2 separate regions of the Homo sapiens genome follow, and region 1 is linked to region 2. A link means that fine-mapping ties the variant in region 2 to the expression of a gene that starts in the linked region. Tissue or cell type: esophagus mucosa. Region 2 holds a variant in brackets; the other region holds the start of a gene. All regions are shown on one strand. Distances are between the middles of the regions.

The links. PIP is the estimated chance that this variant, and not a neighbour inherited with it, causes the effect.
Region 1: it holds the start of PHYH, and the variant in region 2 is fine-mapped to the expression of PHYH in esophagus mucosa (GTEx, PIP above 0.99).

The regions. Positions count from the first base shown.
Region 1 is chr10:13,295,270-13,303,373 of GRCh38, reverse strand. PHYH (phytanoyl-CoA 2-hydroxylase) reads left to right here and starts at 3,310. Exons shown (of 9, transcript NM_006214.4): 1 at 3,310-3,406; 2 at 5,129-5,187; 3 at 7,768-7,878. The coding sequence starts at 3,332. It overlaps LOC124902377 (a long non-coding RNA gene), which reads right to left and starts at 3,185. Exons shown (of 2, transcript XR_007062056.1): 1 at 2,968-3,185; 2 at 406-1,320. RefSeq lists enhancers at 622-771, 962-1,251, 1,108-1,608, 2,984-3,123, 3,700-4,320 and a silencer at 3,304-3,723.
Region 2 is chr10:13,216,632-13,224,735 of GRCh38, reverse strand. It overlaps UCMA (upper zone of growth plate and cartilage matrix associated), which reads left to right. Exons shown (of 5, transcript NM_145314.3): 5 at 2,536-2,970. The coding sequence ends at 2,633. It also overlaps the pseudogene RNU6-6P. Among named protein-coding and RNA genes, the nearest start is that of UCMA, 14 kb to the left of the region's middle. The variant A/G (reference allele first, on the strand shown) is at 3,957.

The sequences.
Region 1 (8,104 bases), 79 kb before region 2:
CCAGCACTTTGGGAGGTTGAGGCGGGCGGATCACTTGAGGTCATGAGTTCGAGACCAGCCTGGCCAAAATGGTGAAACTGGCTCTACTAAAAATACAAAAAATTAGCTGAGCTTGATGGCGCGCCTGTAATCCCAGCTACTCAGGAGGCTGAGTCAGGAGAATCTCTTGAACCCGGAAGGCAGAGGTCGCAGTGAGCCGAGATCACGCCCTGCACTCCAGCCTGGGAAACAGAGTCAGACTCCGTCTCAAAAAAAAAAAAAAAAGAAAAGAAAAGCATAAATTTAAATACATCTAAATATCTAAGTACATCCTTGTATAAATGCCTTGGGGGAGAGATGGCAGGAATTTTCACATGGTTGTGAAATTAGGGCATTTTAAAGGAACAGTAAAAACACAGGTGTAAGTAGCTTCATCTCATTCGAATTTCTTTATTGGTCATGAAAACCAATCACCGTCAGCGCGGGTAAAGGTCCTGATCTTTTTTTTTTTTTATTTTTTCACCCAGGCTGGAGTGCAGTGGCACGACCTCGGCTCACTGCAAGCTCCGCCTCCCGGGTTCACGCCATTCTCCTGCCTCAGCCTCCCGAGCAGCTGGGACAACAGGCGACCGCCACCACCCTGCTAACTTTTTTGTATTTTTAGTAGAGACCGGGCTTCACCGTGTTAACCAAGATGGTCTCGATCTCCTGACCTCCTAATCTGCCTGCCTCGGCCTCCCAAAGTGCTGGGATTACAGGCGTGAGCCACCGCGCCCGGCCAAGGTCCGATTTTTTAATAAACAAGGGAAGGGTGATGAACTGAATTCACAGCTTCAGTTTTTTTTCTCCTGGCAGCAGTGCCCACATTTCACCAGGCGAGGGCAGAAAGGAGAGACCGCCTCGCCGGTCCACATCCAGAAAGGGGCGTTCCCAAGGGCAGAAAGAGGCCGACCCTCCACCTGCACCCGCCCCAGGCCCTGCGCTTGCGTTCAAACCGTGACAAACCGTAGAGTCCTTGAGAGCCCCGGGTTACTCCTACATGGTCATATTCCCGCGCGGGATGCCGAAGTGGGGCAGATGAGGTCCGGAGCTGCTGAGGGATCCCGGGTCCTTCTGTTGGTCTGAGACCCTGGGGCGGGCGGAATCCCGGAGAAAGCCGGAGGGACTCCCCAGTGGAAGCCTGGGAGCTGCCGTTCTCCTCCCTGCCTGTGCAAACAGGAAGGGGCTGGTGATGCTGGCTGCGGGCCTCCCTCCTGGACTGCGACATTGTCACCAAATTCTATAAAGACGTCATGCAGGAAGTGATAACGTGTGCTGCGACGTTCTGGAAGTAACTCGAAGCTAAAAAAGAACAAAAAATCAATGAAAAAATGAAACTAAAGAAACAATGAGATGCTATGTCAATATCCGTAGTTATGGAATGGAAAATAAATCTTACAAAGAGATGCTGGAGTTATCTAAGAAATTTACACCATACTGGCCTGTGTGCATCAGACTTTTCTGGAGGTCATTTATTTTATTCACTTTTTTTTTTTTTATGACCAACCGAACTTTCTAATATTTTGGGCTGGAGTCCCACTAAATGAAATACCCCTTTTGAATGGCACATATGACTTTTAGGGATGCATCTTAGCATTTTTATTTTTTTATTTTTATTTTCAAAACTTCATTGATGTTTTGGAGTTTTGTTTGTTTTTTGTTTTTGTGTTTTTTGGACATGGCCTCACTCTGTCGCCCAGGCTGGAGTGCAGAGGCACGATCTGGGCTCACTGCAACTTCAAACTCCCGGGCTCAGGTGATCCTCCTGCAGCAGGACGAGCCGCAGACAAAACTCAGACACCGGATTAAAGAAGGGCTGTATTAGGCCGGGAACTTCGGCAGACTTGCAACCGAGGTCCCTGAAAAAGAAATTCTTGGCCCTTTTAAGGGCTTGTAACTCTAAGGGTCTACGTGAAAGTTTAGTGAGAGATCGAGCAAGCGTGGGGAACATGACTGGGGGCTACAGGCAACAGCTAACAGAACAGAAAGTTTTGCAATGCTTCCTCATACAATGTCTGGAATTTTTATTTATTTAATTTATTGATTTATTTTTTATTTTTTTTGAGACGGAGTCTTGCTCTGTCGCCCAGGCTGGAGTGCGGTGGCGCCATCTCGCTCACTGCAAGGTCCGCCTCCTGGGTTTACACCGTTCTCCTGCCTCAGCCTCCTGAGTAGCTGGGACTACAGGCGCCCGCCACGACGCCCGGCTAATTTTTTTGTAGATCAGGTGTTCTCACTATGTTACCCAGGCTGCTTTCGATCTATAGCGATCCTGAGCTCAAGCGATCCTCCTGCCTCGGCCTCCCAAAGTGTTGGAGTTACGGGCGTGAGCCACCGCACCCGGCTAAAAACCTGTTTGTTTGTTTGTTTGTTTGTTTAGAGACGGAGTCTTGCCCTGTCACCCAGGCTGGAATGCAGTGGCGCCATCTCGCTGACTGCATCCTCCGCCTCCCGGTTGCAAGTGATTCTCTTGCCTCAGCCTCCCCAGTAGCTGGGATTACAGGCGTGCGCCACAACACTCAGCTAATTTTTGTATCTTTAGTAGAGACGGGTTTTCACCAAGTTGGCCAGGCTGGTCTCGAACTCCTGACCCCGTGATCCGCCTGCCTTGGCCTCCCAAAGTGCTGGGATTACAGGCGTGAGCCACCGCGCCCGGCAAACTTTTTGTTTAAATCGGAGATTTTATTCTTTCAGCTGTCAGTGGAAGGAGCAGTCACGTAGGGTTAAACAGATGGAAGCCATGACGTTAGGAGAGTGAGTGAGGTCCCAGCCCAGCCACTTGTCACTGTGTGACCTCGGCCTGGTCACTGGGCCCCCGAGCTTCGGTGCGGCAGGGAGGGTCCTGGTGATGGAACAGAAACAGGGTGCGGGGCAGGGGTAATGACTCACGCCTGTAGTCCCAGCACTTTGGGAGGTCGAGACGGGAGGCGGGGGGAGTTTGAGACCCACCTGGGCAACGTAGCGAGACCCCATCTCTACAAAAAATAAAAATTAGCCCAAGAGTTCAAGGCTGCAGTGAGCTATGATCGCGCACTGCACTCCAGCCTGGGCGACAGAGCAAGATCTTGTTTCTTTTTAAAAAGAAAGAAAATAAAGGACGGAAGGATCATGGTGTGGGGAGGACTTCAGCCCCGGGCGGTTGCCCGGCGCGCGGACTCTAGCGGACTAGGGCTCCCCAGCAGCCCGGCCCGCGAGCTGGCACCGCCCGGAATCCCGCTTACGTCCAGTCCGGGGCGGCGCCTGGAGGCGGAGCCGCCCGCTGGGCTAAATGGGGCAGAGGCCGGGAGGGGTGGGGGTTCCCCGCGCCGCAGCCATGGAGCAGCTTCGCGCCGCCGCCCGTCTGCAGATTGTTCTGGGCCACCTCGGCCGCCCCTCGGCCGGGGCTGTCGTATCCTTTGGGCTGCGCGGGGCTCGGGCTGGATCCGGCGCCGGCGCCGCCGCCTGAGTGGTGGCCCTGGTCCGGGTGGAGGCCTCGGGGTCGCACGCTTCGCAGCCCCAGCGCCTCCTCGCTCAGCGCCGCGTCCCCGCCTGGGTCGCGTCTCTTCCAGGAGCCGGGGAGCGGGGAAGAGGCTGCGTCCCCCGAGGACACGCGCGGCCGCCCTGGGGTCGGGGCAATTGCCGCGTTGCCCTGCCCTCCGGGATCCCTGGGGGCCTCTGCTCCTCTCTTTGTGGAGACGTCGTTTCACCGGCGGCGCGTGACCCCGGCAGCTGTCCAGAGACCCAGAGATGTCCAATCACAGGCGCACGGTGCACAGGCGCGCAGGGCTGCCTGGAACCGGCCCAGGCAGGCAGTGACCGGGACCTCTCCGGAGGGGAGAGGACGGTGCCCTCCCGGGCAGGAGCTGGCCAGGCAGGCGCTGCCCAGGGCGGCCTCCCTGCTGGACTACGGCATTGCCACTGAGTTATATAAAGACACTATTTGGGGAAGGACAGCGGGTGAGGACTGGCGCGGCGGCACACGCCTTGCCTGTTGTCTCGGCTCTTCTGGGGGCCAAGGCCAGGAGTCCAGGGTTACAGTGAGCCGTGATGGCCAGTGCGTTCCAAAAGAGAGAAACAGAGAGAAAGAAAGGATAACATGTTAATTGATGAGAGTGACATTCCGAAAGTAACCGATTAAGCTAAAGAAACAATGCAATTCTATGTCAACTCTCTGCAGTTACCGGATAGAAAGGAGATCTTTAAAAGGAATTTCTAGGGTTTTGCTTTTTTGGTTTTTTTTTTTTTTTGAAACAGGGCCTCACTCTGTCACCCAGGCTGGAGTGCAGTAGTGGTACGATCTCGGCTCACTCCTGGGCTCAAGAGATCCTTCCACCTCAGCCTCCTAAGTAGTTGGGACTACAGGGTTGCGCCACGATGCCAGGCGAATTTATGTTGTTGTTGTTATTGTTGTTATTATTATTATTATTATTATTATTATTATTATTATTATTATTTTTGAGACGGAGTCTTGCTCTGTGGTCAGGCTGGAGTGCAGTGCCGCACTCTGCAATGTCGGCCCACTGCAACCTCCGCCTCCCAGGTTCAAGCCATTCCCCTGCCTCAGCCTCCCAAGTGTAATTTGTATTATTATTATTAGTAGTAGTAGTAGTAGCAGTAGTAGTAGTAGTAGTAGTAGTAGTAGTAGTAGTAGTAGTAGTGGTGGTAGTTTTTTTTCTGAGATGGAGTCTCTCTCTGTTGCCCAGGCTGGAATGCAGTGGCCTGATCTCAGCTCACTGCAATCTCCACCTCCCAGGTTCAAGCAATTCTCCTGTCTTAGCCTCTCCAGTAGCTGGGATTACAAATGAACGCCACCACGCCTGGCTAATTTTTGTATTTTTAGTAGAGATGGGGTTTCACCATATTGGTCAGGCTGGTCTCGAAATCCCGACCTCAGGTGATCCATCCGCCTCGGCCTCCCAAAGTGCTAGGATTACAAACGTGAGCCACCGCCCCCGGCCTAATTTGTATTTTTAGTAGAGATGGGGTTTCACCATGTTGGCCAGGCTGGTCTCGAACTCCTGAGCTCAAGTAATCCTCCTGCCTCAGCCTCCCAAAGTGCTGGAATTACAGGCATGAGCCACCGTGCCTGGCCTTCTATATTTTACTTTATTTGCCTTAATTCACATCCTAGGTAGCTCATCCCACTTCAGGGACTATTTCCTCTGCCAGTTTCCATCCTCAACAATTCCAGTAAGTAGTTTGAGTTTTGATTTTGAAATATATTATGTATATAAAAGTTTCTTGAGTGGTAATGAAGATATACCACATAATATGTTACCTGATTAGAATTTTATTATACAAATCCTCTGTTTCCAGGACTTATTCTAATTAGTGCACTTGTGGAAAATTTTGGAGACCGACTAATTTTCTGTATGTATTTTAAGATTCAGAAAGAAGGAAAAATACCAGAAAATACATAATCCGACATTTATTTATTTATTTTTAATAGAGACGGGCCCTTCCTATGTTGCCCAGGCTGGTGTTGAACTCCTGGGCTAAAGCAATCCTCCTGCCTTGGCCTCCCAAAGTGCTGGGATTGCAGCCTGAGCCATCACACCAGCCTTATAATCTGACTTTTAAAAATTCAGTTAAACATCTCATTTAAATTAACTTGTGGCCGGGCACCGTGGCTCATGCCTGTAATCCCAGCACTTTGGGAGGCCAAGGCAGGTGGATCACTTGAGGTCAGGAGTTCGAGACCAGCCTGGCCAACATCTCTACAAACCCCACCTCTACAAAATGAAAAAATACAAAAATTAGCTGGGCATGGTGGTGTGCACCTATAATCCCAGCTACTCAGGAGGCTGAAGTGGGAGAATCGCTTGAACCTTGGAAGTCAAGGTTGCAGTGAGCTGAGATCACGCCACTGAACTCCAGCCTGGGTGATAGAGCCAGACTCCATCTCAAAAAACAAAACAAAACAAAACAAATTAGCTTGTATTTGGTTATATGGACATATTAGCTAGCATCTTTGGTTTATCTTAAATCACCTTTAAAGGGGAAGATCTTGACCTTCCTAAATATTCTCATACAACCACAATTCCGATCTTAAGGAATAGGTTGGGTGATTTGAGTTTATGGGTATGCTGTACATTTATTTGGATTTTGTTACTTTACCTTCTTGGAATGCATCAACTGGACAGTTAAAAATATACAATTTATTGAATTTGTTTCCCATCTGAAAAATCATATGTATTCATTACAGAAACATCAGAGAAATAGAAGGAATTTTAAAAAATCATCCCTAATTCCATTTCTAAAGGCAATCACTGTTAAAAATTGCTTTGGTGTATTTCTTTGCAGGCTTTTCTTTTTTTCATATAGTGTCTTGGTTTTACATAATTGTAATAATATTTTATTATAATAAGCATTGTCCATACTATTTTTTATTTTATTATATTTTATTATATTTTATTTTATTTTGAGACCGAGTCTGGCTCTGTCGCCCAGGCTGGAGTGCAGTGGTGCCATCTTGCTTCACTGCAAGCTCCGCCTCCCGGGTTCACGCCATTCTCCTGCCTCAGCCTCTCCAGTAGCTGGACTACAGGCGCCAGACACCATGCCGGGCTAATTTTTTGCATTTTTAGTAGAGGCGGGTTTCACCGTGTTAGCCAGGATGGTCCCGATCTGACCTCGTGATCCGCCCACCTCAGCCTCCCAAAGCTAGGATTACAGGCATGAGCCACTGTGCCCGCCATCCATACTATTATATGGCCTTAATTTTTAATGTCTGAGTCATATTCCACTGAGTGAACATAGTGTCACTAGTTAATTTTTCTTCCACTAATGCACTTTTTTTTTTTTTTTTTTTTCTGAGATGGAGCCTTGCTCTGTCACCCAGGCTGGAGTGCACTGGTGCAATCCTGGCTCACTGCAATCTCCACCCCCACAGGTTCTAGCGATTCTCCTGCCTCATCCTCTTGAGTAGCTGGGATTACAGGCACGCTAATTTTTGTATTTTTAGTAGAGATGGGGTTTCATCATGTGAGTCAGGCTGGTCTCGAACTCCCGACCTCAGGTGATCCACCTGCCTCAGCCTCCCAAAAAGCTGGGATTACAGGCATGAGCCACTGTGCCCGGCCCACTAATGCACTTGTTTTGGTGACATAAAGCGTAAGTTTTCAGATTATTTCCTTGGTCTTAGAAATGCTGAATTGAAGAGCATGAACGTTTCCTAGGTTCTTGTTTTTGTCTTTGTTTTTGTTTTTTGAGACGGAGTCTGGCTCTGTCGCCCAGGCTGGAGTGCAGTGCCATGATCAGAGCTCACTGCAACCTCCGCCTCCCAAGTTCAAGCGATTTTCCTGCCTCAACCTCCCGGGTAGCTGGGATTACAGGTGCCCACTACCATGCCTGGCTAAACTTTGTGTTTTCAGTAAACATGGGGTTTCACCATGTTGGTCAGGTTCGTCTCAGACTCCTGACCTCAGGCGATCCACCTGCCTCGGCCTCCCAAAGTGCTGGGATTATAGGCATGAGCCCCCACGCCTAGCCTCAGGTTCTTGATACATATTTTTAGGATGTAATTTAAATTTTTTTTTTTTTTTTGAGACAGGGTCTCACTCTGTCGCCCATGCTGGAGTGGAGTGGCACAACCAGTATTTTTTGTAGAGACAGGGTTTCATCATGTTGCCTGGGCTAGTCTCAAACTCCTGACCTCAAGTGATCCACTTGCCTCGGCCCGCTAAAGTGCTAGTATTAGAGGTGTGAGCCATTGTGCCTAGCCTGTAATTTAAAAATGTAACTTATTTTGGGATTCTTTTTCTCCTTTAGGTATACTCTGGATAATAACGTTCTAACCCTGGAACAGAGAAAATTTTATGAAGAAAATGGGTTTCTAGTAATCAAAAATCTTGTACCTGATGCCGATATTCAACGCTTTCGGTACAGTAACACTATTTGTTATTTTACAATAGTATGTATTGTGTGCATGTAATGAGAATACAAGGTGGATTCGCTCCTGGCTTTACAGATGTTTTTTAATGATTTGGTTTGTTGGGAAGTGTTTAGAAGCATGGGCTCTGGTGCCAGACTGGCTTTTTATTTTTTATAGAGAAAGGTTCTCACTCTGTTGTGTAGGCTGAGTGCAGTGGTGCGATCATAGCTTACT
Region 2 (8,104 bases):
CAGGTGCTAAGGACCAAAGCAACATCTCCATTCCTCACACCCTGAAGCCACCAGGCGGTCCTGTTGGCCATCGCCACAGAGGATGCCAGTTTCACTTTCGCTAGTACCAAAATCAGGTTCATGGGCTTCTTGGTGAGGTCCACATTTGAGAAAACAGAGGTAAGAAAGACATCTTGGTTCTTTAATTCTTGACATCATCTTCTGTTAGGATTTCCCATCCTTCCAACATCTTTGACAAATGCATCTTAAAAATGTGATAAAACACACACAACATAAAACTTGCCATTTAAACTCTTCTTTCTTTCTTCCTTTTCCTTTCTTTTTCTTTCTCTTTTTTTCTCTTTCTTTCTTCTCTTTCTTTACTTTCTCTTTCCCTCCCTCCCTCCCCACCGCTTCCTTTCTTTCTTTTTTAGATGGGTTTTGCTCTGTTACCCAGGTTGGAGTGCAGTGGTATGATCATAGCTCACTGCAGCCTCAACCTCCTGGGCTCGAGCAATCCTCCCAACTCAGCCTCCCAAGTAGTTGGGACTATAGGCAAGTGCTATCACACCTGGCTAATATTTTTTTATTTTTTGTAGAGACGATGTCTTGCTAACGCTGCTCAGGCTGGTCTCAAACTCCTGGCTTCAAGCGATCCTACCAGCTTGGCCCCCCAAAGTGCTGGGATTACAGGTGTGAGCCACCATGCCCAGCATAAACTATTTTTAAGCATACGATTCAGCAGCATTTACTACATTCACTGTGCAACAGTCACTGCTATTTCCAAACCCTTGCATAGCCTCATACAGAAACTGCATTCATAAAGCAGTAACTCGCCATTCCTCCCTCCTGGAAGCCTCTGGCAACCTCTTTTTTTTTTTGTCTCTGTAAATTTGCCCATTCTAGGCTAGGTGCAGTGGCTCACGCCTGTAATACTAGTGCTTTGGAAGGCCGAGGCAGTTCGATCACTTGAGGTCAGGAGTTCAAGACCAGTCTGGCCATCAGGATGAAACCCCATCTCTACTAAAAATATAAAAATTAGGCGGGCGTGGTGGCATGCACCTGTAATCCCAGCTACTCCAGGTGGAGGCAGGAGAATCGCTTGAACCTGGGAGGCGGAGGTTACAGTGAGCCGAGATCACGCCACTGCACCCCAGCCTGGGTGACAGAGCGAGAGTCAAAACAACAAAAACAAAAACTTGCCCATTCTAGACATGTCATCTAAGTGGAATCATACATTATTCATCTTTTTGCGTCTGGGCTTATTTCACTCAGCAGAATATTTTTAAGGTTTGTCCATGTTGTAGAATGTGCCAGAACTTCATTCCTTTTTGTGGCGAAATTTTACACATACACACCACATTTTGTTTATCCATTTCTTTGTTGAGGGACACTGGGGTTGTTTCCACCTCTTGGCTGCTGTAACTGTTGCGCTACGAACATTCACGTAGAAGTATCCATTTGTGTGTCCCTGTTTTCAATTCTTTTGGGCATTTTCTTTTTTTCTTTCTTTTGTGTTTTTTTTTTTTTTGAGATAGGATCTCACTCTGTCGCCCAGGCTGGAGTGCAGTGGCGTGATCTCAGCTCACTGCATCCTCCACCTCCCAGGTTCAAGTGATTCTCATACTTCAGCCTCCTGAGTAGCTGGGATTACAGGTGTGTGTCACCATGCCTGGCTAATTTTTGTATTTTTTAGTAGAGACAGGGTTTCACCATGTTGGCCAAGTTAGTCTAGAATTCCTGACTTTGGGTGATCTGCCAGCCTCAGCCTCCCAAAGTGCTGGGATTATAGGCATGAGCCATCCCGCCTGGCCAATCACAGCACTTTGGGAGGCTGAGACAGGAGGATTGCTTGAGACTGGGAGTTGGAGACCAGCCTGGACAACACACTGAAATTCCACCTCCATAAAAAAATTAAAAAATTAGCCAGGCATGGTGAAAGGAGGCTGAAGTGGGAGGATCGCCTGAGCCCTGGGAGGTTGAAGCCGCGGTGAGTCATGATCACGCCACTGCACTCCAGCCTGGGTGACAGACTGAGACCCCGTCTCAAAACAAAACAAAACAAGAAAGAAAGAAAAAAAAAGAAAATTAATTCAGAACAGTATGGAGGAAAAAAAACTCCAAGTCGACAATGATTTCCTTCATGTTTTCAAGGCATGGTTTGTAGTCCCTTATTTTTCTTGCATGTCCTTCCAGTAGTCCATTCCTGCTACTGTGTTGTTACTTTTTCGTCTTGTGTCTTGGTTGTTAAGTCTTTGAAACAGGGCTGCATAAGCCTCTGCCCTCCTACACTGGCTGGGCAGGCAGAAGAGCCTGAGATGCCCGGCCCTGGTCTACACCTGCCTGTGACCTTCGCCCATCTGGGCCTGACTTATACACAAGGCTTGTCAGCTCACATACTCTGGATCCTCACCAGTCCTGGCCTTCTCTCACCAGGGCTCACAAACACTCTCAGTGCAGGTCACCACAGGGCAGGGGTTCGGCTGATGGCTGCTGGGCTCAGTGGCAGGTCAGAGTCCCCCTGTCCTAACAGGTGGCTTTGTCTTTCCTCCCCAGAGCAGGAAGAGAGGAGCCGGGAGGCTGTGGAGCAGTGGCGCCAGTGGCACTATGACGGCCTGCACCCATCCTATCTCTACAACCGCCACCACACCTGATCCCATCCTGAAGCCGGCCAAGAAGACAAAGCTTGTAGCACCATTGGCATCCCCGTGTTCCAGCAATCTTTCCCATGCAAACCGGCCCTTCAGAGGGTCTCAGCTTGGGGTCTGCAGTGGCCAGCAGCTCTTGAAAAGACGCATGCCTTTCCTTCCAGTGTGTGAAAGTGTCCTGACTTTCACCTCTTTGCAGACCATCTTCTGAGGTGAGCAACTGCCTGCAGGGCCTCCTAGTACCAAACCTACAGTGGCTTCCCCTGGCTTCGTTCCCAAGCAAAAGAATCAGTCAAGAATCACATGTTTGCTTATGGCTTACAAATAAAAACGCTGAATCAACCATGTGTATTATCTTCTCAAATCTCCAACCGAGGGGTGTCATGCTGTCTTCCCTGAGCGATGATGTGATTCTTGCTGACTTGGGTGTTTGAAAGCTTGAACTTGAGGAGCATTGCTCACTCTTCTCAATATGTCCCATATGCCACCGAATATGCTAGAGTTGACTCACCCAGTCGTCTATCAGTGTGATCGATTTCTGGACATGAAACGCTGGGTCATAACATATATATATATATGTGCGTGTGTGTGTATATATATATGTATATATATACACACTTTTTTTTTTTTTTTTTTTTTTGAGACAGGGTCTCACTTTGTCACCCAGGTTGCAGTGCAGTGGCAAGATCATGGCTCACTGCAGCCCCGACCTTCCAGGCTTAGGTGATCCTCCCACTTCATTCTCCCAAGTATCTGGGACTACAGGCATGTACCACCATGCACAGCTAGTTTTTGTATTTTCAGGAGAGACGGGGTCTTGCCATGTTGTCCAGGCCGATCTTGAACACCTGAGCTCAAGCAATCCACTCACCTTGGCCTTCCAAAGTGCTGGATTACAGGTGAGCCACTGCACCCAGCCGACTTCTACATATTTTAAACTGGCTAAATCGAATTTCTCTTTGAAGAGGTCGCGTGCTTCCTATCGCTGGGCATCTTTGCTGATCCTTTCTGAAAGCAAGTAAACTTAAGACCAGAAAAGTCCTGGGCAGGGGACAGGGGTGCTTGAAATATACACTATTCATGGTGTCTTTTCAGACGGCAAATCTCACTTCTAGCTCCATTAAATTTAACCAAGTCAGACTTAACCAGGTTCCTAGTGCATACCCTAGCTATGTGATCCATGTACTTCTACCACCTACCCCAATGCCTTCGGGCCTGGCTAAACAGAAAGGCTGTTTAGGAACCCGCAGCTCTCCACAAACCTCCTTGAAAGTGACACACAGCTTTTAGTAAGCAATGTTCTAGCAGTGGAAGAGACTGGTATAACAG[A/G]AAAACTTTAAGGCCAGGTGTGGTGGCTCATACCTGTAATCCCAGTGCTTTGGGAAGCTGAGGCAGGAGGATTGTTTGAGGCCAGGAGTTTGAGGGTGCAGTGAGCTATGATCAGGCCACTACATTCCCGTCTGTCAGACAGAGTGAGACCCTATCTAAAAAAAAAAAAAAAAAAAGAAAAAGAAAAAATGAAATTTGAGAACAACATGTGTCTATCTAGATCAGTTACCGAGTGGATGGTGAGCCTGCCAACTGGGGTTGGTAGTTGGGCAGCAGTGAAAGCTTAACCACTGCTAGCTCAGATCCTGAGTCAGGGGTGCAGGCTGTTCAGCCAGCGATACCAGGGAGGTTGCACTGTATTTGCACATAACTGACCTTCTGGTTGGATGCCAAGACAGGCCCTGAGGTAGGTAGCCTCTGTTTACAAGGTTTTTGTTTTTGTTTTTTTAATTAATGACTAAAAAAAATACTCAGTGTGCAACAGAAAAAAAGGCAAAGTGTTGCTCTGTCACTTCCATGGGGAAACAAGAGAAGCCCCAATCTGGTTCATATTGGTCAGGATAACACACCCCAGTGCTTTCTGGCAAGAGGGCAGTTCCCCTTTGCTGCATGGTGGTGATCAGGAGGATGTCAACCAATAACTTGACTCACAGCCACACCATGCACCACCTGCCGGTCGTGTGTCCACAGGAAGGAATGCAGGGCTTTTCAGATGTCAAAAACCAAGAATGGCTTGCTTTAAAAAAGCAAAACAGCCTGTTCTTGCCTCTTCCCTGCTCATGCTTAGCACGGTGGCTCTAGATACAGAACTCTGGCAGAAAGGAGCCAAATAAGAATTCCATTACCTTGTTCTACCCCCATCCTTAACAAGGGCTCCATTATACTTCAGGGTTTTCAAATTCGGTCCAGAATTCCTTCACCAAATGCCAGCTGCGGTCATTTCCTTGGGCGGGAGAAGCATAACAGAGGTAACGCGATCTGGGATCTGGACAGCCACAGTTCACATGAAATTAGAACAGGGCGGTTTGTATTTTGGAGACTGGCCTTGTCAAAAGTGTGGCCTTTGGGGCTTCTTTTGCTTGGGTTTTTCTGTTCTTTCATTACTTTCCCGTAGTTCTTAGTGGGTTCTAGCTAAGTGGTTGAAAACAAATTTGTCAAAGGATATATCTGTCATTCATTTTTATTCACCAATTTTGCATATGTTGGAATTTCATTTTCCCAGTGCAGGTTAAAGGTACAAGGAAAAAACAATGTTTTTGTGTGTTCCAGGAGAGATTTTACAATTTATTATCGTGTGCCTTTGTTTATTTAGATTTTTTAGAAGGAGGTGGTAAGTTTTGTGAGCCACAGAATGATTAAAAAAATTTTTTTAACTTATGTGGTTTTTATCAGTTACATTGAGTTGGGTTATTTTATTTCTAATTCATTTGCTGCCAATTATGTTCTAATTCTTTGGGAAGTTTTTCATAATTTAAAAGTTTTTCATAATTTAAAAGGCTGGGCGTGGTGAGCCACACCTGTAATCCCAGCACTTTCAGAGGCCGAGGTGGGAGCATCGCTTGAGCCCAGGAGTTTGAGACTGACCTGGGCAACATAGTGAGATTCCATCTCTACAAAAAAAATTAAAAATTAGTTGGGCATGGTGACACATGCCTGTAGTTCCAGCTACTCGGGAGACTGAGGTGGGAGGATTGCTTGAGCCCAGGAGGTTGAGGGTATAGTGAACTATGTGACACCACTGCACTCCAGACTGGGCAAGAGAGTAAGACCCTGTCTCTAAAAAAAAGTTGTCTCTAGCCTTGAAGGGATTTCTCTGAAAACAAATTGGTTAAATATAAATGTTCTAGTCTACAATTGAGAACTCTGATATACTCTGTGATCTTATAATGTTTAAAATTATAAATGTTTAAAAATGTTTTATTCACTTTCCACATTATCTTGGCTTTTTAAAATTAAAAATAGTCTAACAGGTACACGAGACTCCATCTCAAAAAAAAAATAGTCTAACAGGTAATACACACCCATGGTTTAACATTTTTTTTTTTTTTTTTATCTTTTCTTTTTTTTTTTTTTTTCTTTTTTTATTATTATTATTATACTTTAAGTTTTAGGGTACATGTGCACATTGTGCAGGTTAGTTACATATGTATACATGTGCCATGCTGGTGCGCTGCACCCACTAATGTGTCATCTAGCATTAGGTATATCTCCCAATGCTATCCCTCCCCCCTCCCCCGACCCCACCACAGTCCCCAGAGTGTGATATTCCCCTTCCTGTGTCCATGTGATCTCATTGTTCAATTCCCACCTATGAGTGAGAATATGCGGTGTTTGGTTTTTTGTTCTTGCGATAGTTTACTGAGAATGATGGTTTCCAATTTCATCCATGTCCCTACAAAGGACATGAACTCATCATTTTTTATGGCTGCATAGTATTCCATGGTGTATATGTGCCACATTTTCTTAATCCAGTCTATCATTGTTGGACATTTGGGTTGGTTCCAAGTCTTTGCTATTGTGAATAATGCCGCAATAAACATACGTGTGCATGTGTCTTTATAGCAGCATGATTTATAGTCATTTGGGTATATACCCAGTAATGGGATGGCTGGGTCAAATGGTATTTCTAGTTCTAGATCCCTGAGGAATCGCCACACTGACTTCCACAATGGTTGAACTAGTTTACAGTCCCACCAACAGTGTAAAAGTGTTCCTATTTCTCCACATCCTCTCCAGCACCTGTTGTTTCCTGACTTTTTAATGATTGCCATTCTAACTGGTGTGAGATGATATCTCATAGTGGTTTTGATTTGCATTTCTCTGATGGCCAGTGATGATGAGCATTTTTTCATGTGTTTTTTGGCTGCATAAATGTCTTCTTTTGAGAAGTGTCTGTTCATGTCCTTCGCCCACTTTTTGATGGGGTTGTTTGTTTTTTTCTTGTAAATTTGTTTGAGTTCATTGTAGATTCTGGATATTAGCCCTTTGTCAGATGAGTAGGTTGTGAAAATTTTCTCCCATGTTGTAGGTTGCCTGTTCACTCTGATGGTAGTTTCTTTTGCTGTGCAGAAGCTCTTTAGTTTAATTAGATCCCATTTGTCAATTTTGGCTTTTGTTGCCATTGCTTTTGGTGTTTTGGACATGAAGTCCTTGCCCACGCCTATGTCCTGAATGGTAATGCCTAGGTTTTCTTCTAGGGTTTTTATGGTTTTAGGTCTAACGTTTAAATCTTTAATCCATCTTGAATTGATTTTTGTATAAGGTGTAAGGAAGGGATCCAGTTTCAGCTTTCTACATATGGCTAGCCAGTTTTCCCAGCACCATTTATTAAATAGGGAATCCTTTCCCCATTGCTTGTTTTTCTCAGGTTTGTCAAAGATCAGATAGTTGTAGATATGCGGCATAAAAATATGGAACGCTTCACGAATTTGCGTGTCATCCTTGCGCAGGGGCCATGCTAATCTTCTCTGTATCGTTCCAATTTTAGTATATGTGCTGCCGAAGCGAGCACCCCATGGTTTAACATTTTTAAAGAACAGAAAGGAATACGCAGAAAGGTAGTCCCTCCTGGGTCTCCTGAAAGAAACCATTATCACCATTGTCTTGAGTTTCCTTTGAGTGATCTGTATACATCTAAGTATATAAACTTTTTTCTATTTATTATTTATTTATTTTTCCGCCAGGAACACTGTGCTGACCATTTTTATTTTTTTTAAAAAACTTTAGAATTTATTTTTGACCAGTGATATGTTTTTGGGCAGGAGTGCAAGCTCAGCCTGCTGCTAGCTCAGATCCTGCGTCAGCCCTGAAGGCTGTTCAGCCAGCGACACCAGGAAGGTTGCGCTGTATTCACACAAAACTGTCCTCCTGGTTGGATGCCATGCTTTGTTTAATACCAGTTGGTTTACCTATTAAACCAACTTTCTACCACGAATAAAAATCTGTATAGTTAATTTACAGTTAAGCAGTTTTTGTAAAACTTTCCAAAAAAAAAAAAAAAACTTCCTACAGGAATGGCAGTGTTTGAAGATGTGTTTGAAAAGAACCCTGATTTCACATGCAAACAAAGGTGAACATTTTTCTAGATAATGTCTCATTAGTTTAGACACTCTAATAATACTTTTGAGTCTCAAATAACACACTAGTGA